4 linked regions of the Homo sapiens genome follow. The protein of the gene in region 1 interacts with the protein of each later gene in a pairwise test. Each region holds a gene or a part of one and is shown on either strand. Other genes may lie near its edges. The genes, in order: BBLN, ATP6V1D, APBB2 and IKBIP.

What was found.
Region 2: the proteins of BBLN (region 1) and ATP6V1D interact in binary tests that used the Homo sapiens proteins (3 or more experiments, as listed by UniProt).
Region 3: the proteins of BBLN (region 1) and APBB2 interact in binary tests that used the Homo sapiens proteins (3 or more experiments, as listed by UniProt).
Region 4: the proteins of BBLN (region 1) and IKBIP interact in binary tests that used the Homo sapiens proteins (3 or more experiments, as listed by UniProt).

What each region holds. Positions count from the first base shown.
Region 1 is NC_000009.12:128,155,388-128,163,264, forward strand, and holds the start of BBLN (bublin coiled-coil protein), read left to right. Parts: upstream 1-4,877; 5' UTR 4,878-5,020; coding exon 5,021-5,099; intron 5,100-7,877. UniProt on the Homo sapiens protein: Essential for intermediate filament organization in intestinal cells, interacts with intermediate filament and regulates intestinal lumen morphology.
Region 2 is NC_000014.9:67,342,234-67,350,316, reverse strand, and holds part of ATP6V1D (V-type proton ATPase subunit D), read left to right. Parts: intron 1-1,212; coding exon 1,213-1,280; intron 1,281-2,863; coding exon 2,864-2,908; intron 2,909-4,445; coding exon 4,446-4,549; intron 4,550-6,878; coding exon 6,879-6,945; intron 6,946-8,083. UniProt on the Homo sapiens protein: Subunit of the V1 complex of vacuolar(H+)-ATPase (V-ATPase), a multisubunit enzyme composed of a peripheral complex (V1) that hydrolyzes ATP and a membrane integral complex (V0) that translocates protons.
Region 3 is NC_000004.12:41,210,989-41,219,321, forward strand, and holds the start of APBB2 (amyloid beta precursor protein binding family B member 2), read right to left. Parts: upstream 3,555-8,333; 5' UTR 3,417-3,554; intron 1-3,416. UniProt on the Homo sapiens protein: Plays a role in the maintenance of lens transparency, and may also play a role in muscle cell strength. Involved in hippocampal neurite branching and neuromuscular junction formation, as a result plays a role in spatial memory functioning.
Region 4 is NC_000012.12:98,623,749-98,627,788, reverse strand, and holds the end of IKBIP (inhibitor of nuclear factor kappa-B kinase-interacting protein), read left to right. Parts: intron 1-1,022; coding exon 1,023-1,859; 3' UTR 1,860-3,540; downstream 3,541-4,040. UniProt on the Homo sapiens protein: Target of p53/TP53 with pro-apoptotic function.

The sequences.
Region 1 (7,877 bases):
ATGATCTTGGCTCATTGCAACCTCCACTTCCCAGGTTCAAGAGATTCTCCTGCCTCAGCCTCCCAAGTAGCTGTAATTACAGGTGCCCATCACCATGCCTAGCTAATTTTTTTTTTGTATTTTTAGTAGAGACGGGGTTTCACCATGTTGGCCAGGCTGGTCTCGAACTCCTGACCTTGTGATCTGCCCCCCCCTTGGCCTCCCAAAGTGCCTAATTGGTTTTTTACACTGTCATGCCCACCTTTGAGTGGTGCCTTTGTTTTAGCCTTCGTTTTGCATACTCACAAGCCAATCAGCATGCACTCCCCATTCTGAGTCCAGAAAAGCCCTAGACCCAGCCACACTGAGGGAGAGACTGCCCAACTTGGGGTGCGGGACCACTCTCACATCCCCTCTTTGCTGAGAGTTGTTCCATCACTCAACAAAATTATTCTCTGTCCTCCTCACCCTTTGATTGTCAGCGTATCCTCATTCTTCTTGGACTCCGGACAAGAGCTTGAGACCCACCAAGTGAGGGTACAAAGAAAGCTGTAACAGTGCTAGGGTTGAGCCAGCTCTGGAGCCACAGGCCAGAGCAGGTAACAGGGCTGACATCTTCCTGGACAGGGGTGTCACTGGCTGGGGGTCTCCGGCCGGCAGAATGACCAAGAAAAATCCTGTGTCACTATCATAAATCACCACAAACTGTGGGTTTAAAACAACACCTATATATTCTGGAGGTCAGAAGTTTGAAATCAGTTTGACTGGGCAGAAATGAGGGTCCACAGAGCTGTGCTTCCTCCAGAGGCTCTCAGGGAAGCTGCTCCCTGCCCTTCCCAGCTTCTCATGCTATCTTCCTTGCACCCCTTAGCCTGTGGCTCCTTCCTCCTTCAAAGGCAGTGGAGCATCAGCAAATCTCTTTCTCTGCTGAGGGCCTCACTCTCAGCCAAGGAGGGCAGGCTAGGCTGGGCACCATGGCTCACATCTGTAATCTGAGCACGTGGGGAGGCTGAGGTGGGAAGATCACTTGAGTCCAGGAGTTTGAGACCAGCCTGGGCAAGATGGTGAAACTCTGTCTCTACAAAATTGAAAATATTAGCCAGGCGTGGTGGTGGTATGCCTGTAATCTCAGCTAATCTGGAGGCTGAGGTGGGAGGATCACTTGAGCCCAGGAGTTTGAGACCAGCCTGGGCAAGATGGTGAAACCCTCTCTCTACAAAAATAAAAATATTAGCTGGGTGTGGTGGTGGTGCACCTGTAGTCTCAGCTAATCCAGAGGCTGAGGTGGGGAGTTTGAGGCTGCAGTGAACTATGATTGTGCCACTGCACTACAGCCTGGGCCACACAGTAAGACTCTGTCTCTAAAAAAAAATTAATTAATTAATTAATTAAATTTTAAAAAGGAGGTGAGCCTGACCTGGATGAGAGGCCGTTCCCCAAAATTCTTTGGGTGCTGGTTCAATGTCCTTCTTGCTCTCGCTCAATCTAGTTCAGGGAGGAGAAGGCAGGGCTGACCATGTGCAAGTCGCTGGAGACCCTCACAGCAGGCTTCAGATTCCACCATGCCCCTGCCTTCCTCAGGTAGAACAGTGAGGGTGGCTTCTGGGACAAGAGAGGATTCCACCCCATTGTCATTGTCTGGGATACATGCTTGGGCCTGACCTGGCATTGAGGATGGCCTGCCCACAGGGACAGCCAGTGTGAGACCAGGTCCAGGCTGCTGCAGCCATGATGCCTCCATGCACTACAGCTACTGGAGTCCCAGTAGGTGAGCCCCTCTGCCTAGAACGTGGGCCTGATTCTCAGCTGGACCCCTGGGCAGGATCATAGCTCTGGGTCCAACCCAGGGGTGACACTTGCCGGCTGGGTGACTGTGGGCAAGCCGCCTTCTCCTAGCTGGAAGTAGAATGTGGGATGACAGCAGCTGGGCCGATTGTCATGAAGCCTTTCTTGATGAGCAGTCCATGAAGCACTCTGCCCACGGCCCTCTACCCTCCACTGCAGCACTCACAGGCGGGGGCAGCAAACCTTTCCTTTATTGGAGAATGTGACACACAGTCCTGGGTGGGTTTGAGGTGAGCTTGAACTAAGGGAAGCCTCACCCCTGTCCTGCCCCTGTCCCAGTTAAGGGGCTCTCCCTAAAATGAACTATTCCTACTTCTCTTTATTTTTTAAAAAATTAAATCTAGCCAGGAATGGTGGTTTACACTTGTAATCCCAGCACTCTGGGGGGCCAAGGCGGGTGGATCACCTGAGGTCAGGAGTTCGAGACGAGCCTGGCCAATATGGTGAAACTAAAAATACAAAAATTAGCCGGGCATGGTGGCATACACCTGTAATCCCAGCTACTCGGGAGGCTGAGGCAGGAGAATTGCTTGAACCCGGGAGGCAGAGGTTGCAGTGGGCCAAGGTCGCACCACTGCACTCCAGCCTGGGTGACAGAGTGAGACTCTGTCTCAAAAAAAAAAAAAAATTAAATTTTTATTTAATCTTTTTTTCTCTTTGGCTTCTCAAAGTTCAACTTAAAAAGGTAGCTCCAGGGACCAGGCGCGGTGGCTTATGCCTATAATCCCAGCACTTTGGGAGGCCGAGGTGGGCTGATCACGAGGTCAAGAGATCGAGACCATTCTGACAAACATTGTGAAACCCCGTCTCTACTAAAAATACAAAAATTAGCTGGGCGTGGTGGCGTGTGCCTGTAGTCCCAGCTACTCAGGAGGCTGAGGCAGGAGAATCACTTGAACCCAGGATGTGGAGGTTGCAGTGAGCCAAGATTGCGCCATTGCACTCCAGCCTGGCGACAGGGCAAGACTCCGTCTCAAAAAAAAAAAAAAAAAGAGGTAGGTCCAGGCCGGGCATGGTGGCTCACACCTGTAATCCCAGCATTTTGGGAAGCCAAGGCAGGTGGATCACCTGAAGTCAGGAGTTTGAGACCAGCCAGGGCAACATGGTGAAACCTCGTCTCTACTAAAAATAAAAAAAATTAGCTGGGTGTGGTGGCAGGCACATGTAATCCCAGCTACTCAGGAGGCCGAGGCACAAGAATTGCTTGAACCCGGGAAGGAGAGGTTGCAGTGAGCTGAGATCATGCCACTGCACTCCAGCCTGGGCAACAGAGCAAGACTCTGTCTCAAAACAAACAAACAAACAAAGGTAGGTCTGCTCCAGGCCAAACTTTTTATTTATTTATTTTTTGAGACGGATTTTCGCTCTGTTGTCCAGGCTGGAGTGCAGTGGTGCAGTCTCAGCTCACTGCAACCTCTGCCTCGTGGGTTCAAGTGATTCTCCCACCTCAGCCTCCTGAGCAGCTGGGATTACAGGCACACGCCACCACGCCCGGCTTATTTTTGTATTTTTAGTAGAGACGGGTTTTCACCATGTTGGTCAGGCTGGTCTCAAACTCCTGACCTCGTGATCTGCCCGCCTCGGCCTCCCAAAGTGCTGGGATTACAGGCGTGAGCCACCAGGCCTGGCCTTTTTTTTTCTTTTTTTTGAGACAGGGTCTTGCTCTGTTGCTTAGGCTGGAGTGCAAGGGCACGATCTCTGCTCACTGCAACTTCTGCCTCCCAGTTCAAGTGATTCTCCTGCCTCAGCCTCCTGAGTAGCTGGGACTACAGGCGTGTACCACCACACCTGGCTAATTAAACATTTTATTTTTAATTAATTAATTAATTTTTTTTTTTTTAAAGACAGGGTCTCACTCTGTTGCCCAGGCTGTAGTGCAGTGGTGCAGTCATAGCTCACTATAGCCTCGAACTCCTGGGCCCAAGTGATCCTCCTGCCTTAGCCTCCCAAACAGCTGCAACTAAGGTGCATGCCACCAGGTCTGGCTAATTTTTTTTGTGCTTTCTGTAGAGACGGGGGTGGGGGGGGCTGAGTGGGCGGGGGTGGGAGTAGGGTGTCTCACTATGTTTCCCAGGCTGGTCTCCAACTCCTAGGCTCAAGCAATCCTCCCACCTCGGCCTCCCGTAGCGCTGGGATTACAGGTGGGAGCCACCCCGCCTAGCTAATGTTCCTGTTTCTCTTGTCCAGAGCTGGAGTCCAGCCTGATTCCCACCCACAGGTTGTAACCAATGAGCCCTAAGAGAAGCGCTGAAGACCAGGAAGGCCCAGATCCAGGGGTAGGGGTGTTGGGTCCTCTCCACTGGGGTGCAGGCAGAGAGGCAAAGAGGAAGGAGACCCTTCGTGACTCTCAGCGAGGCTGTGAAGAAGAATATCCGGAAGCCACAAGAGGTATATCCGGAAGCCACAAGAGGTGTGGAAACCCCGTTTCCAAGGCTGGGCCCAGTAGCTCGTGCCTGTAATCCCAGCATTTTGGTAGGCTGAGGCGGGTGGATGGCTCGAGCTCAGGAGTTCGAGAGCAGCCTGGGTAACATGGCGAAACCCCTCCCCCCCCCCCCCCCCCGTCTCCAAAAAATACAATAGCCAGCGTGGTGCAGCCGTCTGTAGTCCCAGCTACTCTGGAGGCTCAGGTGGGAGGATCGCTTCAGGCTGGGAGGCAGAGATCACCCCACTGCATTCCAGCCTGGAAGACAGGGCCAGGCCCTATCTCAAAAAATAACAAGGAAACCCCGTTTTCGATTTCGCCAACGCGGAGGGGCCGAAGCAGCAGATGGGCTTGGACGGTCTCCCGCCGCTCCTCCCGGACCTCCCTACTCCTGGGCTTTTCCAGGGGCAGCCCCGTGGTGGCCCCGCCCAGCGCCCGGGAGAGGGGCGAGGCCGGGGGCGGAATGGGCGGAGTTCGACTGTGAGGGAGGTGGAGGCGGGAGTCCGGTGGTGGGGGTGGAGTCTGGAGGTAGGGCGGGGCCAGAACAGCGGCGGGGGCGGAGTTCCGGCTGGGGGCGGGGCGGGGCGGAGCGGGAGCTGCGGGATTCCGGCTTCAGGGGCGGGGCACCGGCCTCTGGGCGGAGATCTGCTGCCGCGTTCTACCCTTCCGGCCCGTGTTCTATCCGCCGCCTCCACCTTCCATCCGGCGCCGGCTTTCGGCGCGACGGTCGCCGCGTTCCATCGTCGCGCGGCCCTTCGGGCGCCCGAGCCCGCAATGTCGGGCCCCAACGGAGACCTGGGGATGCCGGTGGAGGCGGGAGCGGAAGGCGAGGAGGACGGCTTCGGGGAAGCAGGTGACCCGAGGGGGCTGCTGGAGCAACCTTGCATTTTCAGGGCTGCCCTCCCGGGAAGGGGAATCGAGATGGGGTCTCGGAAGGGAACAAAGAGCCCACCCATTCCGCCCCGAGCGGGTCCGGAGTTGTAGGTGCTGTCTCGGATGCAGGGCGAGCACCCGCGAGCCGGTTCCCAGCCCCGTGAGAGCTGCAGGTCACCAGTCCCGTTTTACAGATGGGGAAACTAAGGCAGCTTCGGGGACACTCGCCCTTGTGGGCCTTGCTCCACCACTTCCTTCAGTCCTGGGGGAGACCGAGGCACCTGAGGGAGGCAGGGTTGAGCTTAGCGGAGGGGCCGGGCCGGGACGTGGAGTTGGGGACGCGGGGGCGTCGCTCTGCCGATTCAGCATCCCCAGCCACCCGGCTTTGCTGGTGTAGCCTCACAGCCTTGCCAAATGTCAGCAGCTTACAGAGCAGCCTTTTGCGTGCTTACGAGTGCAGGGGTGGGGTGTGAAGAGAACCATCGGCTCCCTTCTCACCTTCTTCAGCCTCAGTTTCCCCCTCTATAAAATAGGAATAACGATTAGTGTCTGCTGCACTGGGATGTGTCAGAATTAAATGCAAAAAAAAGGAAAATCCTTAGCAGGTTCTAGCATGCAAGAGTTCAGTAAATGGTTATCGTCATTATTATCTTTGGTATAGTAAAGATTGGCATGTTAACATACACTGAGGATTTAGTAAATGTGGTGTAAGTATGGTGCATGCTCTTTGTTTTGTTTGGCGTAACAGCTTTATTGAGCTATACAACTTACCCATACTGTACAGTTCAGTAGGCTTTTGTGTATTCCCAGGGTTGTACATCCATCACAATAGTTTCAGGTAGCTCTGCATTGGGCAATGCTGTTGGGAGCATCAGGAAGAGCTTCCCAGGAGGTCACATTAAGTGGATGTTGGCAGACAGGACTTAGAACAGTGGGGAGGAGGGTGGTGTCCCAGGCAGAAGCAAAGGCTTGGAACTGGGAAGTACCCTTGACACAGATAAAGCCTGGCCTGGAGGGGTGTGGGGCACCTGCCTCCCCAATTCCTCCTCCTAGCCTGTATCCCAGGACACAGAGTTCGAAATATTGATAATAATGACCATCCACTAAGTACTTGCTGTGGCCAGATCCTGTCTGAGCTTTTTTTTTTTTTTTGAGTCGGAGTCTTGCTCTGTTGCCCAGGCTGGAGTACAGTGGCGTGATCTTGGCTCACTGCAACCTCCGCCTTCTGGGTTCAAGCGATTCTCATGCCTCAGCCTCCCGAGTAGCTGGGACTACAGACGCCTGCCACCACGCCTGGCTAATTTTTATACATCTTTAGTAGAGACAATGTTTCACCACGTCGGCTAGGCTGGTCTCGAACTCCTGACCTCAGGTGATCCACCCGCCTTGGCTTCCCAAAGTACTGGGATTACAGGCGTGAGCCACCACACCGGCCACTGTCTGAACTCTTGATGTGTTTGAATCCTCACAACCTTTTTTATTTTCCCTTTTTTCCAGAAAGGTACAACTTGCTGGGGTAAAGCAGAGCTGAAATTCAAACCCAAGTGACCCTGACCCCCAAGTCCAATCCTGAGTTTCGGCTGTTACCAACCTGGAGGACCCTGGGCAGGTTCCTTCCTTCTGAGGCCTCGGTTTCCCTAGCTATATACCATGAGGGGGTTGGACTTTAAGATGCAGCCGATTTCCCAGGACGCTGTCGTCTGTGAGGGTGGCTGGCTCTAGGCAACGGGTGCCCTTTCCTAGAACACAGGCACATATGCACCCATAACCCAGATACGCTCCTCCAGCTCCTCCACCGGCTGCTTCCCCCTTGGTCTCAAGCTGGCAGCTGAGTGTATGTGAGTCATGGGCTGGCTCAGAACTGGGTCCCGCAGTGGGCACAGGCCCAGACCTTGAGTCCTCAGGGACACTGTGTTGCTGAGCAGGGCAGCTCTGGAGTGGCCGTGGAGGGGAGGGAGTGATGGTTTCTAGTGGAGACCAGGGAAGGCTTCTTGGAGGAGGCATTTTGAGCTGGTCCTTGAAGGGCTGTTGTGGTTGAGGCATTCTAGGTTGCAGGGATAGTTGAGCAATGGCGGAGAGGCTGGAAAGTCAGAGGCTTCATTCATTCACTCACTCAGTCATTCAACAAATGCTTATTGCAAAACTGTGAGGGCACCAGGGAGCCAGCAGCGAACACAGGACCGTTCATCTTTCATGGGGAAACATAACAGCACTCAGATAAGCACAGCAGTCAATCCTGGAGAGAAGGTCGTGGAGGGCTGAGGAGGGCTAGGGGCTCAGCATAGAGGCCTGATCCAGTCTGGGGCATTGGGTGGGCTCCCGGTGGTGACATCCATACTGAGACTTGAAGGATGAGTGGGACTCATCCAGGAGGAGAGAAGGGAAGGAAGATGGGAGGACCCAGCACCTTCCAGGCAGAGACAGCAGCATGTTCAAAGGGCCTGAGGTAGGTAAAGGCAGGTGTGAGAGAGGAAAGGAAGAGGCAGGGAGGCAGGGCTAGCTAGGAGGCAGGGGCTGGAGACTCCGCTGGGTGTTTTATCCTGAGGGAGCCACAGAAGGGCTGGCGAACAGGGCCCATCTGGGGACAGAGGCCTTGAATGCCCAACTCAGGAATGTGGGCTCTGGCCACTAAGCAGCTGCTGCAGGAAGTGCAGAGACTTGGCATCTGGCAGGACTTCCCATGTAGGACACTGGCTCGCCACCCTATGACCACCCTAACCCTAGAAAAAAGGATGCAGTACTAAAGTGTCATTCATTC
Region 2 (8,083 bases), on another chromosome or scaffold:
TATTTTTTTTTTCTCCTAATGCTGGGTATTTGGGTTAATTCTCAGTTTTTTGGAATATTAGGGAAAGTGCAGTGAACATTTTTACACATATGTATTTTTGTTTCTACTGAATTATTCCCGTAGGATAAATTTTTGAGAATTGGATTATTTAAAAGGCATGAACTTCATGGCTTTGGTGACATCAGTAAATCCTTTACAAAGCATACAAAATAGCTTGCAAATGTGTTATGCCAATTTACATATGTTATGTAATTCTCCAAATAACACTATGAGATAGGTAAGGCAAGCATTGTTATTCTCAGTTTTAATTAAATGCCTTCCTGAGGTCACTTGGCTAATTAGGGGCAGAGGCAGAAGTTGTTTTCAAGGTTTCTGATTTTATTATTTTCCTAATGACATGATGCCTATTATCTAGGAGCTTTCACTGCTCTTGGGCCTTAATAAGGCCCTTTGAAGTGGTAGGCTTTCATTTTTGCCAGTGCTGGTAAGATCACAGCTTGCATTGAATTTTCTAGCAGAGGGTGGAGATCAATCAATAGTGTATAAGTGGTATGTGAGTGTTTTAGGGTGGTTATGGGGAAGATACTTTCTATAATATTTATTTTTGTTTTGTTTTGAGATTGGGTTATGAGACTGGCTAATTTTTGTATTTTTGAGTTTCACCACATTGCCCAGGCTGGTTTTGAACTCCTGGCCTCAAACAATCCTCCTGCCTCGGCCTCCCAAAGTGCCAGGATTACAGGCGTGAGCTATCGCACCCTGCCAGGAAGGCACTTTCTGGTAACATTTGAGAAGTCACACAAAGCCAGATGGAACATAGTTTCCAGGGTAAAGGAATTGAACGCCAGCTTAACCAATTCAATAGCAAACCTAGAAAGGAGTTTTCTCTATCTCACACTAGCAGAAGAATCCTTAAAGTTATATCCATGTAGCACACCTCTGACTGAAAACATAAGCAATCCACGAACTTTAAAATCATTCTTTGTTCTTTTCTTACTGCTAATGTTTTGAATATTGTTCATTCTCTGCTTTCAGAGGCCCTCCTCTAGCAGTAATGACTTTTCTCCCTTTTTGGAAAAAGGACAGTTATCAAAACATACTTAATTGTGACATCTCACTCTTGGTCTCATTTAATGTTAAAACTATCCAGTGGGTCCCTGTAGGTTTATTTCTGAAGAGTCTGCTAAATAAAGTCTTTCTCTTTTTCTGCAGCACTACAGTTATCCAAAATGTCAATAAAGCGCAAGTGAAGATTCGAGCGAAGAAAGATAATGTAGCAGGTAACGTTTCAACCTTTTAGAAACCCTTTGGGGAGAAAAGAGGTGACATTTTAAAATTAACCTGTTTATACAGCAAGATCTTAATGTCCTAGTTTCTTCCTTCTACTTAGAACAAGTTGATTGGCTTTACATGTTAAAATCATTAACAACCAGGTTTCTAATTACTCAGGATAACTTGACTTTTGTATAGAAGTGAACACTTAAGAAGGCAGGTTCCGGCTGGGCACGGTGGCTCATGCCTGTAATCCCAGCACTTTGGGAGGCCGAGGTGGGCGAATCACAAGGTCAGGAGTTCGAGACCAGCCTGGCCAACATGGTGAAACCCCATCTCTACTAATAATACAAAAATTAGCCAGGTTTGGTGGCACGCGCCTGTAGCCCCAGCTACTTGGGAGGCTGAGGCAGGAGAATCGCTTGAACCCGGGAAGCGGAGGTTCCAGTGAGCCGAGATTGCACCACTGCACTCCAGCCTGGGTGACAGAGCAAGACTCTGTCTAAAAATAAAAAATAAAAAAATAAAGAAGTCAGGTTCCACTGGATGTGGTGGCTCACACCTGTAATCCCAGCACTTTGGGAGGCTGAGGTGGGCGGATCACAAGGTCAGGAGTTCGAGACCAGCCTGGCCAACATGGTGAAACCCCATCTTTACCAAAGAATACAAAAATTAGGCCGGGTGTGATGGCTCACACCTGTAATCCCAGTGCTTTGGGAAGCCAAGGTGGGCGGATCGCCTGAGGTCGGGAGTTCGAGACCAGCCTAATATGGAGAAATCCTGTCTCTACTAAAAATACAAAATAAGCCAGACGTGGTAGCGCATGCCTGTAATCCCAGCTACTTGAGAGGCTGAGGCAGGAGACTCACTTGGACCCAGGAGGCAGAGGTTGTGGTGAGCCGAGATTGCGCCATTGTACTCCAGCCCAGGCAACAAGAGCGAAACTCATCTTTAAAAAAAAAAAAAAATTAGCTGGGCATGGCATGTGCCTGTTGTCCCAGCTACTCAGGAGGCTGAGGTGGGAGAATCACTTGACCCCAGGAGGCGGTGGTTGCAGTGAGCTGAAGACCACACCACTGCACTGCAGCCTGGGCGACAGAGTGAGACTCTGTCTCAAAAAAAAAAAAAGAAGGCAAGTTCCTAAATTCATTAATTGAAACCAATTACAATTCCATACTTAAGCTCTTGATTTTTGAGTTTGATGAAAAAGAAACACAGAAAACAGTGATTAAGAAACAGAATTTAGGCCAGGCGCGGTGGCTCATACCTGTAATCCCAGCACTTTGGGAGGTTTAGGCGGGTGGATCACCTGAGGTCGGAAGTTCAAGACCAACCTTACCAACATGGAGAAACCCCGTGTCTACTAAAAATACAAAATTAGCCGGGTGTGGTGGTGCATGCCTGTAATCCCACCTATTCAGGAGGCTGACCAGGAGAATTGCTTGAACCTGGGAGGCAGAGGTTGCGGTGAGGCGAGATCACGCCATTGCATTCCAGCCTCGGCGACAAGAGCAAAACTCCGTCTCAGAAAAAAAAAAAAAAGAGAGAACTTAAAGGTTTATGAATCCATGTATGCTTCTGTGTTTAACAGGTGTTACTTTGCCAGTATTTGAACATTACCATGAAGGAACTGACAGTAAGTGTGAAACTTTTTGTATTACTTTGTGTCTCTGGGATTTCCTGTTTCCTCTTTAAATGAACTAAGTTCTGGAAAATGGTGCTAGATGTTGAGAGGTTCCTGAGTTAGAAATCCTCTTATTTGATATAGTCAGGACAATAGTTGATCAGTTAATCAAAAGGTCTTAAGGCCGGGCACAATGGCTCATGCCTGTAATACTGGCACTTTGGGAGGCTGAGGCAGGCAAATCTCCATCTCTACAAAAAATATAAAAAATCAGCCAGGTGTGGTGGCACGTGCCTGTAGTTTCAGCTACTTCCAGGGCTGAGGAGGGAGGATTGCTTGAGCTGGGGAGGTAGTTGCAGCGAGTTCTGATCACGCCACTGCACTCCAGCCTGGGCTACAGAGCAAAACCTTGTCTCAAAAAAGAAAAAGGTCTTATGCTAGGAAGTCATAAAACATTATACATATCTTAAAATATTTCAATATTTTATCAGAAATATATCAATGTAGAATCACTTGCTATTTAAAAAATATAAGGCCTTTTGAATATGAATTCACTGATTAGACTTCTGTGTTGTTTTTCTGCATATCCTACACCCACAATGCACTGCTTATAATTCCCAGTTTGGGTCTCTTTAAAGTCAAATAAGATCTTAGACACTGATGCAACCTGAATGCTGATTCTTTCTAGATTTTTATAGCCCACTTCCACTTTTTAAATAACTGTCTTATTCATTCCATTCCTAGTTTGACAGCATATTTTCTTTCCAAAGTAAAGTATTAACTTTTTTCATAGAAACAATATTCTTGGCCAGGCACAGTGGCTCACACCTGCAATCCCAGCACTTTGGGAGGCTGAGGCAGGTGGATCACCTTAGCCCAGGAGTTTGAGACCAGCCTGGGCAACATGGTGAAACCCCGTCTCCACCCAAAAAGTTACAAAAATTAGCTGGGCCTGGTGGCATGCGCCTGTGGTCCCAGCTACTCGGGAGGCCGAGGTGGGAGGATTGCTTGAGCCTGAGAAGTGGAGCTTACAGTGAGCTGAGATCGCACCACTGCACTCCAGCCTGGGTGGCAGAGTGAGACCCCATCTCAATAAATAAATAAACAAATAATATTCTTTCTTTTGGCACTTGTATTTCCTTGCTTCATGTGATATTTAATTAAATCATATAGAATATTAAGTACATTTCATACGAAGAAGTAGAGCATTCTAGAGAGAGTCACCTGTTCACAGAGTGTCATCGTACTCTGGGCATCAGGCAGTATGATTTTCAAAGGGAATAAGGGGCATCAAGCTAGTGAAGTGAAGGTTGGTTAAAAGCTTCCTTTGTAGTTATATTTAGAATAGTATTCTTGTGGGAAACTGTATTTAGTAGCATGCTCCTATAGTGTTTGGGGAGTGAGATAGGCACTTCATGTTTACATTCAATGAAGATTAGTGAATTCATCTTTCCATATTTGTTATTATTCTGAATTATCTCCTTTTGGGGAATTTTATAGGGAAGATATTTTACTCTAATTAAAAATGTTGTCTGACTGGTCCTTTCAGGTTATGAACTGACTGGTTTAGCCAGAGGTGGGGAACAGTTGGCTAAATTAAAGAGGAATTATGCCAAAGCAGTGGAACTACTGGTGGAACTAGCTTCTCTGCAGGTAAGTAGCAAAAGACCTGGAGAACTCCTGTAGTTTGATTTGTAACAGTCAAGTGGAGGAGAGTCAGGTCTTGAGTCAGCATATACTGTGCTTTGTACTTTTAACTGTTCCCATGATCCTATGTAAAGCAAACATAATATTTTGATTTCTGAAGTGATGGCTTTTGTACCATTGTCCCTACTTTTTAAAATTTATGTATTTTTTATTTTTTTGAGATGGAGTTTTACTCTTGTTGCCCAGGCTGGAGTGCAATGGCGCGACCTCGGCTCACTGCAACCTCTGCCTCCTGGGTTCAAGTGATTCTTCTGCCTCAGCCTCCCAAGTAGCTGATTACAGACATGTGCCACCATGCCTGGCTAACTTTTGTATTTTTTGTAGAGACAGGGTTTTGCCATGTTTGTCAGGCTGGTCTCGAACTCCTGACTTCAGGTGATCCACCCGCCTCGGCCTCCCAAAGTGCTAGGATTACAGGCATGAGCCACTGCACCTGGCCCCTACTTTTAATTTAAAAATTTATTTATTTTTCGAAATGGGGTCTCACTGTGTCACCCAGGCTGGAGTGCAGTGGCATAATCCCAGCTCACTGCAACCTTAACCTCCTGGGCTTAAGTGATCCGCCCACCTCAGCCTCCTGAGTAGCTGGGACTATAGGCATGCCCCATCACACCTAGCTAATTTTTGTATTTTTTGTAGAGGTGGGGTTTCACCATGTCGTCCAGGCTGGTCTCGAACTCCTGGGCTCAAGTAATCAGCCCGCCTCATCCTTCCAAAGTGCTGGGATTATAGGTATGAGCCACCACACCCGGCCCCTGCTTCTTCTTGTTAACAAAATGTATGTGCTATGGTACACTCTTGTTTTTTTTGTTTGTTTGTTTGTTTTTTTCTTTGAGACAGAATCTTGCTCTGTTGCCCAGGCTGGAGTGCAGTGTTGCGATCTTGGCTAACTGCAGCCTGGATCTCCTGGGCTCAAGCAGTCTCCCGCCTCAGCCTCCCAAGTAGCTTGGACTACAAGTTTGTGCCACCTCGCCTGGATAATATTTTTGAATTTTTTAGTTGAGATGAGGTCTTGCTACGTTGCCCAGGCTGGTCTCAAACTCCTGGCCTCAAGAAATCCTGCCATCTCAGCCTCCCAAAGTGCTGGAATTATAAGTGTGAGCCACCTCACCCAGCCCAGTTTCACTCTTTGCTAAGTAAGAATAGCAAGTTGATACTAGATTTAAATGTAAATGTAAATAAACATCGTTTGTGCATGGAAGACCATTTTTTCCCCTATGTGGCCAGTTAGTATATATCTAGGTTATTAATGCTTGATTCTTTCTTGTCATTTTTATGTTGTTATTTAGGTGAGACTATAGTAAACAAATTATAATAGTGTCAACTCAAGTAAAGCCTGTTGAAGCAGAAATGATTTGATAAAGGTTTATTGAAAGCCAAATGTGAGGATTGACCCGGGAAGACACCAACAAAGTTGGGTGTGTTCTAGAGTCTGCTACAAGTTGGAAGGCTTTTATGGGAAAGTTTAGGAGAAGGGAGGACTCCTCATACCCAAGTTGTCCTTTTCATTGGCGAGTACAATACAGAGGTCACAATCATTGGCTACAGATTACAAATACAAGCTAAAATGTTCTACATGCAAGTAAATCATGAAGTAAAACTTCATGAATCAGAAACAAATCAGTGTCATTTTCAGCGTCAGTAGGTTGCATATTAATCAGTATGTCAGCAGTCTGAGAAACTTAAGATTTCCTTACTCAGGGACAGGATGTAAACCATGAATCATAAGATCCCTCAATCTGCCCAGGCAGGTTAATTTGGAAACCTACCAAATGTGACATGTAGGTTATCAATAGCATGGAAATAGTGTTAGCCCTATGGAAATCTCACAAGAATTTTGTTTTTGTTTTGTTATGAAGAGACAGGGTCTTACTCTGTCACCCAAGCTGGAGTACAGTGGCACAGTAATAGCTCACTGCAGCCTCAAACGATCCTCCCATCACAGATTACCAAGCAGCTGGGACTACAGGTGCATGCTACTACACCCAGCTAATTTTTAAAATTTATTTCTTGTAGAGGCAAGGTCTCATTGTGTTGCCCAGGCTGGTCTTGAACTCCCAACTTCAAGTGATTCTCCCACCTCAGCCTCCCAAAGTATTGGGGTTATAGGCGTGAGCCATGCGCCCAGCCTAAGAATTTTGTTTTTTAAGCATGCCAAAAAGAAGTTGTCTTGGTTCTCAAATGTTTTCTACAAGTGCAGTCTTAGTGGAGTCAAGTGATCAGGGAATGATTAGGAAGACTTTGTGCTTACATTATTAATTTGTTCTTATTTTAGACTTCTTTTGTTACTTTGGATGAAGCTATTAAGATAACCAACAGGCGTGTAAATGCCATTGAACATGGTGAGTATTAGGTACTGTGAGGTGCTTTGTCACTTGTCCATACCCTCCACTTGTCGTGAAACTGCTAGAATTCAGGGACTGTACTGAAGACTGAAAGATGAATAAGATGCTTCCCTTGCCCACAGTGCAAAGAGAGAAGTGTGTCCATAGTAAAAAAAAAAAGTGTTATGAAGTGTTCTGATAGAAGTACTTGTATGATCTGGGGGAGTTACACACATAGGAAAGTGGTGACTTAAAAATTATGGAATGTTTTCTTCATTTCCAGTTATTCATGCAGTTATTTAAGGGTAGGAATATTTCTCAAGATCCTTAGTGTTTTCTGTAGTTCTTTCTAATGGTTGAGTGATGCAACTTTTTGAGTACATTAAATATTTAACTTTAAATCAGTATAAGCCATTCTCCTTGATTTCTAAAAAATTTCCCATTTGATGCACTTATTTTCCATCTCTTTTATTTCACTATTTAAAAAATATGACTGCTTAGTGTTGATGGTACTTTTTGCTCAATAAACTTAGTTTTTATTAAAGAAACACTCAATTTTAGGTAAGAAAGCAAAATTTGAAGTAAAGAAATTCCTTTGCTTGGGAATTTCTATATTAATGCTAGTGAGAAATATATTAACTATTATATTAACTATGTATAATATGATATATTAACTATATTGTTAGAAATATATTAACTGTTATATTAACTATATATTAACTATATTAATGTTAGTGAGAAAGTTACCTCATTTTTTAAAAAACCTTTTTGACTGCTTGCTAGTGCCAGGCCTTGTACATGAAAGTGGAAGCAAAGAAAAAAAAAAAAAAAAGGATAATTCGTAGTTCTTACCCTCAGAGTTCACATTCTAGAAGCTGAACAGGTAAACTATGTAAAGTCGAGCCTAATGACGTAAACTCAATCGAGCATTCTCTCTGCTCGATTTTTTAACAGTTGATTGCTACTATATTTAAAATAACATCTGTGCTTCAATGTTATATATTCATAGAATTCAGCACATTCAGTGTTGTATTTGTTATGGTCCAATAGGTTATCTATGCATAGAAAAGACACTAGAAGGGTATACACCACCATGTTTACAGTAGTTACTCTTTTGGATGGTTGGATTATACTCTATTTTACTTTTTTTCTTTGT
Region 3 (8,333 bases), on another chromosome or scaffold:
TCACGCCTGTAATCCCAGCACTTTGGGAGACCGAGACTGGTGGACCTCCTGAGGTCAGGACTTGGAGACCAGCCTGGCCAACATGGTGAAACCCCATTTCTACTAAAATTACAAAAATTAGCCAGGCGTGGTGGCGGGCACCTGGAATCCCAGCTACTCAGGAGGCTGAGGCAGGAGAATTACTTGAACCTGGGAGGTGGAGGTTACAGTGAGCCAAGATCGCGCCACTACACTCCAGCCTGGGTGACAGACTGAAACTCTGTCTCAAAAATAATAATAATAATAATAATACTAGGCACTGAACAAATGCTGGTTTCCTAACCCCATGTAGGAAAATAAGTATTCCCCCCATAACCAGTAATAACTTATTACAATATTTTCCTAAAAGTCTGTCCCACCTGCTCCCCTCCCCCGCCCCCGGAAAACTTAAGGTGTTATATCACAAGGGTATTGTCCAGTTTTGTTTTGTTATTTATTTACTTATTTATTTATTTTATTTATGTATTTATTTTGAGACGGAGTCTCACCCTTTTGCCCAGGCTGGAGTGCAGTGGCGCGATCTTGGCTCACTGTAACCTCCACCTCCCAGGTTCAAGTGATTCTCCTGCCTCAGCTTTCCCAGTAGCTGGGATTACAGGCGGGAGCCACCACACCCGGCTAATTTTTGTATTTTTTTAGAGACGGGGGTTTTACCTCTTGGCCAGGCTGGTCTCAAACTCCTGACCTCAAGTGATCTGCCCGCCTCAGCTTCCCAAAGTGCTGTGATTATAGGTGTTAGCCACCGTACCCGGCCAGGTATTGTCTATTTTTAAAATGAAATTGAAAAAGGTACAGAGACACGACATACCATTTTTCTTATTTTTTCCTTCAACTTTTAAGTTCCAGGTACGTGTGCAGGATGTGCAGATTTGTTACACAGGTAAACATGTGCTATGGTGGTTTGATGCACAGATCAACCCATCACCTAGGTATTAAGCCCAGTATCTATTAGCTATTCTTCCTGATGCTCTCCCTTCCATTTTTCTTAAAAGATAAATTTAGATATCCAGTACTCAGGATAGTCCACACACATCATTATTCTAATATTATGACAAGGCTTTCAGTATTCATTCCTGTGGTAACAGAAAAATAAAAGAATTCAATGTTCATATGCTGTTTTTCTGGTGGCAGGAAAAGAAAACAGTCATCAAAAGGTTGAAACATGACAAAAAGTACCAGTTTAAAAATATTTTATGTTTGTACATGTGGATTCTTACAATATATGCAATAGTTTTTTCCCAAGTAATTTTGGAGTCAGTATTCACATTACTCCAGCTAAGTGTAAACACCAGTATTTTGCACTTTAGCTCATCAAGCTTTCTTTTTTTCAGAAACAGGATCTCACTCTGTTGCCCAGGCTGGAGTGCAGTGGCGTGATCATAGCTCACTACAGCCTCAAACTCCTAGGCTCAAGCAATCCTCCCACCTCACCATCCAGCTTTTCAATTACCACTTTATAAAAATTTCAGAAAGCCAGTTCACATTGGCTCCTTGAAGGTGAATTTATTCAGTTAAAAGTATCCATTAGAAGAGGGAATAAAAGCATAGGACCTAAAAACCTTCTGTGGAAAGGATCTCAACTTTAGAGTCGTCTCTCAAAGGCTCTCAGCAAATATCTAGAGACGTGGTTACATCCAGTTTACGAAGACTGTCGGTGACTTCGGGGTCATACAGTACATGGACAACGAAAGAACAGCAATTGAAATCTTGTACTTGTACCCCACCACCTTCCGCCCTATGATCAACCCACTGTACTCTACTGCCACCTGTGTTCTCTCGGCATTTCCCCAGCCTGGAGGTTTCCCCATTCTCGCCACAAATACCATCCTTCACGAACGATGCCATTTCTAGGATGTTGCAAGTTATGATAAACAACTGTTGAACAAATATTGCTTACAAGCTACAAGTTGAAAACGAGAAGGTTGCTACCTAAGTTCATGAAGAAATCCCCTTTCAAGGATTCCATCTGTTCCTAAAAGGCCAGCCACACAAATTCTAATACTCTGCATTATTATGGCCATTTGGGGACAAGATTTTAAATCTGAAACCATGACAAGAAAAAAAAAAAAAGCAAGATTTAAGAGAGTAAACTCCAGAAACAACAGATCAAACTGCCATTGTGTTTGTTTTTTTTAAATCAGTGAAATATTAAAACAAATGATAAACCCATGCCAACCTCACAAAGTTTCCTCATTCCTTGGAATTCAAACACCACCGATGGCATCATTTTATGATAATCCTTTGGGTATTTCACGTAAGTAATTAGACACAATGTAAAGCCAGTGACTGAGGGACTTAAACAAACTGTCCCCTCCGAGAGCCCAGTTGGAGCTTCCGACACTGACCTTATTCTCCTCTCAATTTTAACCCTCCTCAACCACTCAATCCATCCAAAAACGTCTGTGACAGTCGTGGCTCTAAAACCGCGCAGAACTTGACTACAGAACGGTCGGTGACAACTCCACATATGATTTATCCAAATTAATTTATTTTTTTGAATTCTAGTCCCATGCTCCCTCGGCTGTTTGCCCCGAACCCGTAGTCTACACCACTTCACCGACGTGAAGACCACCTTTCATTGTTTCTATGGGTCTCAGCATCCTTCCCTCCGTCCAGCTCTGTTCTCGCCGCACAAATGTCATTTCTAGCGTACCACCCTCCATTCCGCCCGGTGGGCAGCGCAGGGGCTTTCGGGTCCCAGTGGCCAGTTTCCTGGAGTCGGTCCCCTATGCACAGCCATTTTCTAGTTAAACGCTCTCTCTGCCACCGAGGGGGAAAAGGAACTTTTCCCCCCTTTCATGTCTCATGGGCTGGCCTCTGAACCCCTCGTGGAGAAGCCAACCCCGGCTCCAACTCCCCGGCAGGAGCGCGCTGCCGCCCAGGAGAGACAGCCGAGCGGCACAGCGGAGGCCGGTGCCAGGACAAGGGGGTGTGCGCTCTTCCCGCAGGCGCCCACCCTCACTTTTCCCCTCTGCAGTCCCCACCCGGGCGCACCGCCTCCAACCCGGTCTCCCCCGCCCCAGGCCCTGCCAAGCCGGGGCTGCTGAGGGAAAGAGGGCGCCGGGAAGCGGGAGGGATGGAAGTCAAGGAGAGTGAGCCCGCAGTCGCCGTGCCACTGGCCCTGCGGCGCGGGCGCAGGGCGCACGGGACTCCGCAGCAGGCGCCCCGCTGCAGATGCCGCGGCAGCTGCTGCAGGTGTGGCTGCGGCTGAGCGGGCAGCAGTGGCCGCGGAGCCCCGGGGCCGGGAGCAGAGGAGAAGCCGCCGGGGGAACCCGCAGCCGCTCGCCGCACGCTGCTGCCGCTACCCGGGTGTTTCCCCAGCACTCTCGTGCTGCCCCGGAATCCGGGGCAAAGGCAAGGAAGAAAGCTGGGCTCACCAGTGGTGCGCGCGGCGCTCGCCTCGGCTCCGGCGCCCAGCGGCTCTGCTCCAGTCTCGCCCTTCCCGGAGCGCCCAGATCAGATGCGGTTACAGCGCACTAGCTTCCTACTTGAGACCAGAACGGGCTCCGGCAACTGAGCATGCTCAGTGCCGTTCCGCGAGTCCCGCGCAGGGAGCGGCGCTGACGAGATTCCACTTCTCCAGGCTTTGGCAGCGGCTGCGCGAGGGAAGGCTGGAGGGACCCGGCGGGGAGGGGGCCGAATGGGAGAAAGGCGGGGCCGGGGGGTGGGGGCCGGGCAGAAGGAGGCGGGCCGCGCTCCCAGGGCGACCCCTGCAGGTGGAGGCGGCAGGGCCTGCGGGAGGCACCCTCCCCAATCGCCTGGGAACACGCAGGGAGGCAATGGGTCCCCCAGTAAGACCCAAAGGCAGGACGTGCAGTGCAGCCCGGGTATCCCCTCCGTGTGGCTGGTGTCTGTCTGCACCAAAAGGCAGTTGGGTTACCTTAGCCCTGGCTTTTCTCCCACACGCCAGCATTCCCTTGCAATAGGAAAATGTCCCCACAGGAGAGCTGCCCACACCCACCCAGGCTAACTGCAAGTTGTAGGCGACACCTTCTCCTTCCTTCTACCTCCTATCCCCACCCCCAGGCATATGCCGCACACACACTCTTCTTTGATCCGGAAATCACAAGATAATATCAGGGGAGAGATACAACTGCCGGAGAGGAAAAGGAGGTTTTCCTTTCCATTGCCAATAATATTATCTATAACTCTAATTGTAAGCGTGCAAACAAAGCCCTGATAAGAGTCGAGTCTCAGTAAACGGTAAACCGTGCTCTGCCCCAGACGCTGTGAATGACATCCCCAAAGTATCCTTAGGATTGCTCTTCACCAGGGCAGCGGTTGTCAAACTGGAGCCTGGATCAGAATCGCCTGGAGGGTTTGCTGAAGTACAAATCCCTGAGTCCCAATCTGTGTCTCTGAATGGGTAGATATGTGGTGGGGCCCAAGCATCTGTATATCTAACAAGTTCCCATGGGATGCTGATGCTGCTGGTGTGAGGACTATACACTTTAGAGAACCCTACCCATACACACACACACACACAGTCCTACCAAGGATCTCGAATTAAAAACTCACGTGATTCTTCCTATGAGGACTCTATGCAGTGGGGTGGGCATTACTTTATTCTTTCCTACATGAGTTTATTAAGGATCCACGAGGTCTTGTACTAGGCCTGAGGATAGTGGTGAATTTAAAAGCCCAGGCCCCTGCTTTCATGGAATTTATAGTCCGGCCGGGTGACAGACACCTATCAAATAATCACTCAAAACGGTTATTTCAAACAGGTAGAGTGCTGGGAGGGAAATGCACAAGGTGCGAATAGAGTGTATAGAGGGACCCTCATGCAGACTCAGTGAGGTTGTTACGAAGGGATGGGAGGGGGGCTGCCTTGTGGAAGGTGGTTTCTGACTTTTGCACTCCAATAACCTCTCCAATTAACAATTATCTCCCTCAGACCGAGCTGGAGGCCAGCAATCATGTCCCTCCTTCCTACAACATAAAAACAATACTGTCACAGAGAAATCCCTATAAATTCATGAAAAGTGTTTACTCTTGGGACTGAGTCTCTGCACCCCAAGATCCACCTAACACGTCCGTGGACCAAGGACAGTCGAGGGCCACAGTAGACCTCTTGGGGAAAATACAGGCTCTCTGAACTGGAGAGCCTGTGGTTCTTAGTCTGTGATCTTCAAGGCCAAAGAGGCAAGGAAACCAGCCCAAGACCACCATTCCCGTCAGGAGCGGAGATCGACCAGCCTCCAACCTTGCAGACGGGTCCTCTTTCCAAGGCACTCTATTCCCGGACCTCACAGCTCCCCTCAGATCCCCGGAACCCGGCCTGGCCACCCCGCTCTCTCTCGGGGGTCCGGGGTAGGTGAGCGGAGCCTGCCCCTCCCAGGTCGGTCTCTTCCCGACGGAGAGGAAAACCCGCGGTGGAGTCCGCGGCGGCGGGGGGGGGGGGGGGGGGGGGGGCGGGGCGGCGCGCGCAGGCGCAGAGGCCGCCAGGTTGGGCCGAGGAGGCGCCCTGCTCCACACCTGATGCAATCAGCCTTCCGGAAACGGGTCCCGCTGCCGCGCTCACCCAGGAAACACTTCCGCGCCCTCCTCTGGCCGCTGAGCTCCCGGGGACGGGTTCCCAAACTCCCCCGGCCCGACTTCGCCACGGGCGGTGTTCTGCGCCCCGTCGGGGATACGCCGGAGAAGTCGGGAAGTCACTGCCTGGGCACACAAAATCCCTGAAATGCCCTGACAGTGACGTCGAAACGGCCACCAAGCGTTGCGCAGCTGCAGGAGGAAATTCCCTTAATTATGAATTTACAGAGGGGACTGATCGGGGCCGGAGGGAAGGCTTTGACCCTTCCCTTGCTTCCTTCCTTCGTCCGCCTCCCAACACATTGTCTCTCTCACTGAAAGGAACGTTTAACAGCAGTTTTAAGGCAGTATGGAGAGGAATCTCCATGCCCTCTGTCTTGCTAAATATGTAACAGCACTTTAGCTTTGCTACATAAAGCTTTCCCACCGCGCGCTCATTTTATAAATACGTAATTGGTTTCTGCATACCTCATCATTTCAGTTTACAAAGAAAATCATTTCTCGTTTCACCACTTCATGCAATTTTTATATCTATTGTGAGTGGGTTTTTTTCTTCATGCTGACTCACCCATTAATTGTTTTCCAAGGAAATGAAATATCCAAGAATATTCCAAGAGCATGTTTTTTAAAGCATGGAAGTAAACGCTGTGAACAGTAGATAAAACTGACCTCTCTTAAGTCCCTTAAGGCCAAAGGTCCTCCTAGGGAGTTGGGGGAAGGAGGCAGATCCAAGGAATTTTATTTGGAAGGATACCTCAAGACCATTCTAGAATCAAATCAAGATCAACTCTTAGACTTTACAGATGACATTTACCTCTCTGTGGCCCAGAGAAATAAATGACTTCTTTATTTAGACAAACCAAAGGCAGAACTGGCACTTGAAGCCAGATTTCTCAAAATTCCAATCTAATGGGGAAAAAAAAATGTTTTTTGCACAAACACCGTAGGGAGTGCAATACTATATTACAATGCAGTTTTACAATCCAAAGATTACAAAATACAAAATAGGTGACAACAAAAGGGATCCTATTACTTGTTCCTGTGACGTCATTAGTCTTTAAATAGTCCATGATCAACAAATATCCAGCCACTTCTAAGTGGCATTGAATAGCCAGAGTCTAGGAATTAAATATTTCAATTAAACAGGTATGAGTCAGGTGCAGTGGCCCAAGCCTGTAGTACCAGCTACTGGGGAGGCTGAGGCAAGAGGGTACATGAGGCTGGACGTTCAAAGTTGCAGTAGGATCTTGCCTGTGAATAGCCACTGCACTCCAGCCTGAGCCACACAGCAAGACCTCATCTCAAAACAAAACAAAAAAAACAGTATAACTACAAAACATCAAGAAATCTTCTGTGCCAACATTAAGAACTTCTAGTATTATTATTTGATTGTGTGGTATATGTGCAACGGTTTGAGCTTAAACCAAGGGAATTTTAATGATCACAACAAAATATCACGGTCATGATTTTCTTCTGTAATGATTTTAAATACTTTAACAATTTAGTAATCAAAGTGAAATAAAAAACAACTCAAAACTCATGCCTGCAATAAGATAAAATCTAATTCTTCAAAACTCTGTCTACCTTCTTATCTTGAGGAATGAATTTCTTTTTGGAATGTTCTGACAGAGATCTGGAGGAACACCTTCTATTGAAGCAAAAATAGAGTTGAGTAAATGTCAAAATGCAGAGGTACAAAATACACACTGTCACACGGTACTAGTTTTAGAATAGCTAACTCTTACTGACTATTTAGCATGTGCCAGATACTGGCTAAGCATTTTCCATAGGTTATTTAACTCAATCCTCACAACTACCCTATAAATGAAGCACTATTATTATCCCTATTTTATGGATAGGGAAAGTGAGGCTTGCAAATGTGAAGCAGCTAACTCAAGGCACAAAATATTCATTGGCAGAACTGGGATTTGAACCCAGGCAGTTTTCCTGGAGCTTGAGCTCTTAAATAATACTATGTATGGAAAAATGTAAATACAGAGAAAATGACTATAATGATTCTCAGATAAGAAAGGAGAGGGAGTATTGTACTTACTCTCCTAAAGATAAAACATAGTAAAATAAGTTTGTAGTCCACACTAGGAAAAAACCTTTTGCTAGCTAATAAATTATGGTCCCCAAATATAGGACCAATATTACCCAGAGGTATGAGGCAGATGATCAAATATCGAGTGATTTTTCAGGGGTACCAGCAAGGCCTCTTCTCTGATGAACCCTCTACGCCTGACTGGTTTCTCTAGTCCTAAACCATCCAATATGGCAGTCACTAGCCACATATGCTTATTTAATCTGAAATCACTTAAAATCAGTTAGAATTAACTCTTCGGTTCCTCTTTCATACTAGCCACATTTCAAGTGCTCAGTAGCATATGGCCTAATGACTACTGTATTGGATAATGTAAGTAAAAAGCATTTGCATCACTGCAAAAAATTGTATTCAACAGTGCTGCTCTGGGCCTTAATGTCATTAGGGCAATCCTTTAATCTCTCTTCATACTGCACTATTCCTGGGAGGACCATGTTTCCATGGTCTACCTTCCCATTGAGCTTCAGTCCTATTTTTCCAAACTAAAATTATTATTAGAGTGTAGAAAGGTACAAAGAGGTACAAAGCATAAAGTCCCCTACTATCATGGAAAGAATAGGGGCACTGGAGTAAGACCTTATTTCACATTCCAGCTCTTAGTAGTTGTGTGACCTTGGGCAAGCTACTTTACCTCACTGAATCTCACTTTTCTTAT
Region 4 (4,040 bases), on another chromosome or scaffold:
TACAAAGTTGCAGTTTCTAAAAAGCCAAAAAACCATAAAAATGACATCGAGGGCTGGGCGCGGTGGCTCACGCCTGTAATCCCAGCACTTTGGGAGGCTGAGGTGGGCGGATCACGAGGTCAGGGGATCGAGACCATCCTCGCTGACACGGTGAAACCCCGTCTCTACTAAAAATACAAAAAATTAGCCGGGTGTGGTGGCGGGCGCCTGTAGTCCCAGCTACTCAGGAGGCTGAGGCAGGAGAATGGCTTGAACCTGGGAGGCGGAGCTTGCAGTGAGCCGAGATCACGCCACTGCACTCCAGCCTGGGCGACAGAGCGAGACTCCGTCTCAAAAAAAAAAAAAAAAAGAAAAAGAAAACTGACATCAAAGTTACTTACCATTAGAGTTAAAAGGAGGAAATTGCATCTATTTCAGGCACTTTAACATTACTTTTCTCTTGTATATGCTTCCATAGAAATGCTGAAATATCTAGGATTGTGTGTTCAGGTGTATTTTTTTTTTTTTTTAACATAGTGCTGGCCAGGCGCGGCAGCTCTCGCCTGTAATTCTAGTACTTTGGGAGGCCGAGGCAGACGGATCACTAAAGGTCAACAGTTCAAGACCAGCCTGGCCAGCATGGTGAAACCCCATCTCTACGAAAAATACAAAAATTAGCTAGGCATAGTGGCGCGTACCTGTAATCCCAGCTACTCAGGAAGCTGAGGCAAGAGAATACGTTGAACCTGGGAGGCGGAGGTTGCAGTGAGCTGAGGTTGCTCCACTGCACTCCATCCTGGGTGACAGGGTGAGATTCCGTCTAAAAAATAAATAAATAAATAAAACAATGCAGGGTTAACGTATTTGTGAAAACTATTAATGTAATAAATATCTTTGTCAGTCTGATTCTGATATACTTGGATATTTTAGACATCTTCAGAATTTTAACGTGGCATGTGTTATGCTCCTGATTGTTAAAGTGTGTTTCTCTAATATGAAAATTATTAAGTAGCCTTGGGAATTGTTTTGTGTTATAAATGCAGCTTGAGTCTACTGAAAGCATCCTGCAGGAAGCTACATCATCCATGTCTTTGATGACCCAGTTTGAGCAGGAAGTATCCAACCTCCAAGATATCATGCATGACATTCAAAATAATGAAGAGGTGCTCACTCAAAGGATGCAAAGCCTTAATGAGAAATTTCAGAATATTACGGATTTCTGGAAGAGAAGCCTAGAAGAAATGAACATTAATACAGACATTTTCAAATCAGAAGCAAAACATATACATTCTCAAGTAACTGTCCAAATTAACTCAGCTGAGCAGGAAATAAAATTGCTCACTGAACGGCTAAAAGATTTGGAAGATAGCACACTAAGAAATATTAGAACAGTAAAAAGACAAGAAGAAGAAGATCTCCTGCGAGTAGAGGAGCAGCTAGGCTCTGATACAAAGGCAATTGAAAAGTTAGAAGAGGAACAGCATGCCCTCTTTGCCAGAGATGAAGATCTGACTAATAAACTTTCCGACTACGAACCCAAAGTTGAAGAATGCAAGACACATTTGCCAACAATTGAAAGTGCTATTCACTCTGTTCTCAGAGTCTCTCAGGATCTGATAGAAACAGAAAAGAAAATGGAAGACTTGACTATGCAGATGTTTAATATGGAAGATGATATGCTGAAAGCAGTGTCTGAAATAATGGAGATGCAGAAAACCCTTGAAGGAATTCAGTATGATAATAGCATATTAAAGATGCAAAATGAACTGGATATTCTAAAAGAAAAAGTTCATGATTTTATAGCATACTCAAGTACAGGAGAAAAGGGAACTTTAAAAGAATATAATATAGAAAATAAAGGAATTGGTGGTGATTTTTAAATTCATGACATTTATTCTGATGAACCATATCATTATACATAAATTGATTAGTCCATTGATTTTGAGTTACTTTGATACGCCTCATCTTATCCTACATTATTGGAAAATAAATGAGATGTCCACACAAATGGATTATCCACATAATCAAAGCTTATCTTTTTAAGCACTAAAACTTACTTCATTGTAACTATTTGAAATAGAAATAGTTCTTTAAAAATATTTCTCTACTTTTAAAACAAGATACTTAATATTTTTAATGTTTTTTAAAGCATTAATGAACATCATCATTAATTTCACCTATTATATTGTACCCACATATATTGATGTCTCCAGGGGCTAATAAAGAGTATTTACCACTTCACTAAATGACCCCAATTTGCCATTTTCAAACCTATGTCTCATACCTTTTCTGTCACCTGAACTTACTGTCAGGTTGGTTGGTAATGTGCCTGCCTCAGCCAGTTCACTTTCTTAGGTAATTCACTGCAGGTTAAGAATCCACACAACCAAGTTCATGGGAATTTTGTGTAAAATAAAAGATAACATGCCTGAGGGAGAGCCTGGTGCCTTTGCTATGAATTAATATGCACTTTCTGAAAACTCTAAAGCCTGGGAAACATTTTAGTTTTTGTTAAGGTTCTAAACTGTGTTACAGATACTTGTAAGACTTTTAAAATCAGAGTAAGTATGTTCTTACATAAGGCCTTTCTTAGGAATTATGTGTATATAAATCTTTGAAATATCTTTATATACCTGAGTTTTAGGTTCCAACTGTGTTAGACATGAGTTTGCTAGATCCATGGTCTCTAGATGGTTTACTTAAATAGGCCAGGCGCAGTGGCTCACACCTGTAATCCTAGCACTTTGGGAGGCCGAGGTGGGCAGATCACGAAGTCAGGAGATCAAGACCATCTGGCTAACAGGGTGAAACCCTGTCTCTACTAAAAAATACAAAAAATTAGCCAGGCGTGGTGGTGGGTGCCTGTAGTCCCAGCTACTCAGGAGGCTGAGGCAGGAGAATGGTGTGAACCCGGGAGGCAGAGCTTGCAGTGAGCCGAGATCGCGCCACTGCACTCCAGCCTGAGTGGCAAAGTGAGACTCTGTCTCAATAAATAAATAAATAAATAAAAATAAGCCTGTGGCCTGTTTTGAGGGAAAAGTAACATAACTCTGATAATTAATTATGATAATAACTATGATAGTTAAAAATACGTCATTTTAAAGATTTCCCAAACCACACCACTAAATTTGTTTTATGAATTGATTTTATTTTATTTGAAATTATATAATGTAGTCAACTGCAATATGGAAGTTTGTTCTTGTTTCTTTGTCAATAACCTTACCAGTTTTATAATGCAGTTTTTGATGGAATTAAACACAAAGAACTTGAAAGCAGTCAGTTACAAAAAGGTAGTTGTGGTCAAGTAGTTTTAATATGTAAATTTGCAAGTTTTTGGAGAACCCCCAAACTCCTTCTCCACTGGAGTTAGGAGGGCCTGTGGTAGACAGCGTGAATCATGAAAATAAGCCTGGAGAGTTCTGTTATTAAGGGGCATAGCATTAATTTTTGCAGTCTTAAAATTACACTTCTTGACTTCTGAATGTCTCTTATTTGCGTGCACTGACAAAATTCTATTTGTTTACTTTTATATTAATGGTAATAAAATAGATTATAAAGTAAGCTGGAACTTTGTTGTTTTAACCTCCATCCTGTCAAGGCAAATGTGATCTCTTATCTTATATCCTTTACGTTTAAATATTTTTTTCTCACCGATCACCACATTTAATATGAGGTTATTATGAACTTATATATACCATGGTAATGGTTACTGAAAGTAAATGGAAACAAGGTGGCTACTGTTCTCTATAATGACACAAGGGAAAGGAAGAAAACTGCACTTCTACAAGTATAACATGAGAAAACTATTAAAGTATATATGCGTTTGTATGTATGTATAGATATCTAGATAGATATATCCTGTATTTATGAAGAGGTTTTCCTATTAAGAAATTATTAGAGAGATTTAGATGTACTTAATTTGTCTTTCTCTCTTTCTTCCATTCATTTATTTAACACAGATGCTTAAAATTTCAAAAACTTTCCTGTGTATCAAATATTAAATTACATTGTTAGTCTTTTCTTTAGGGAAAATTACCAATATCCTAAAACACATTTTTGTA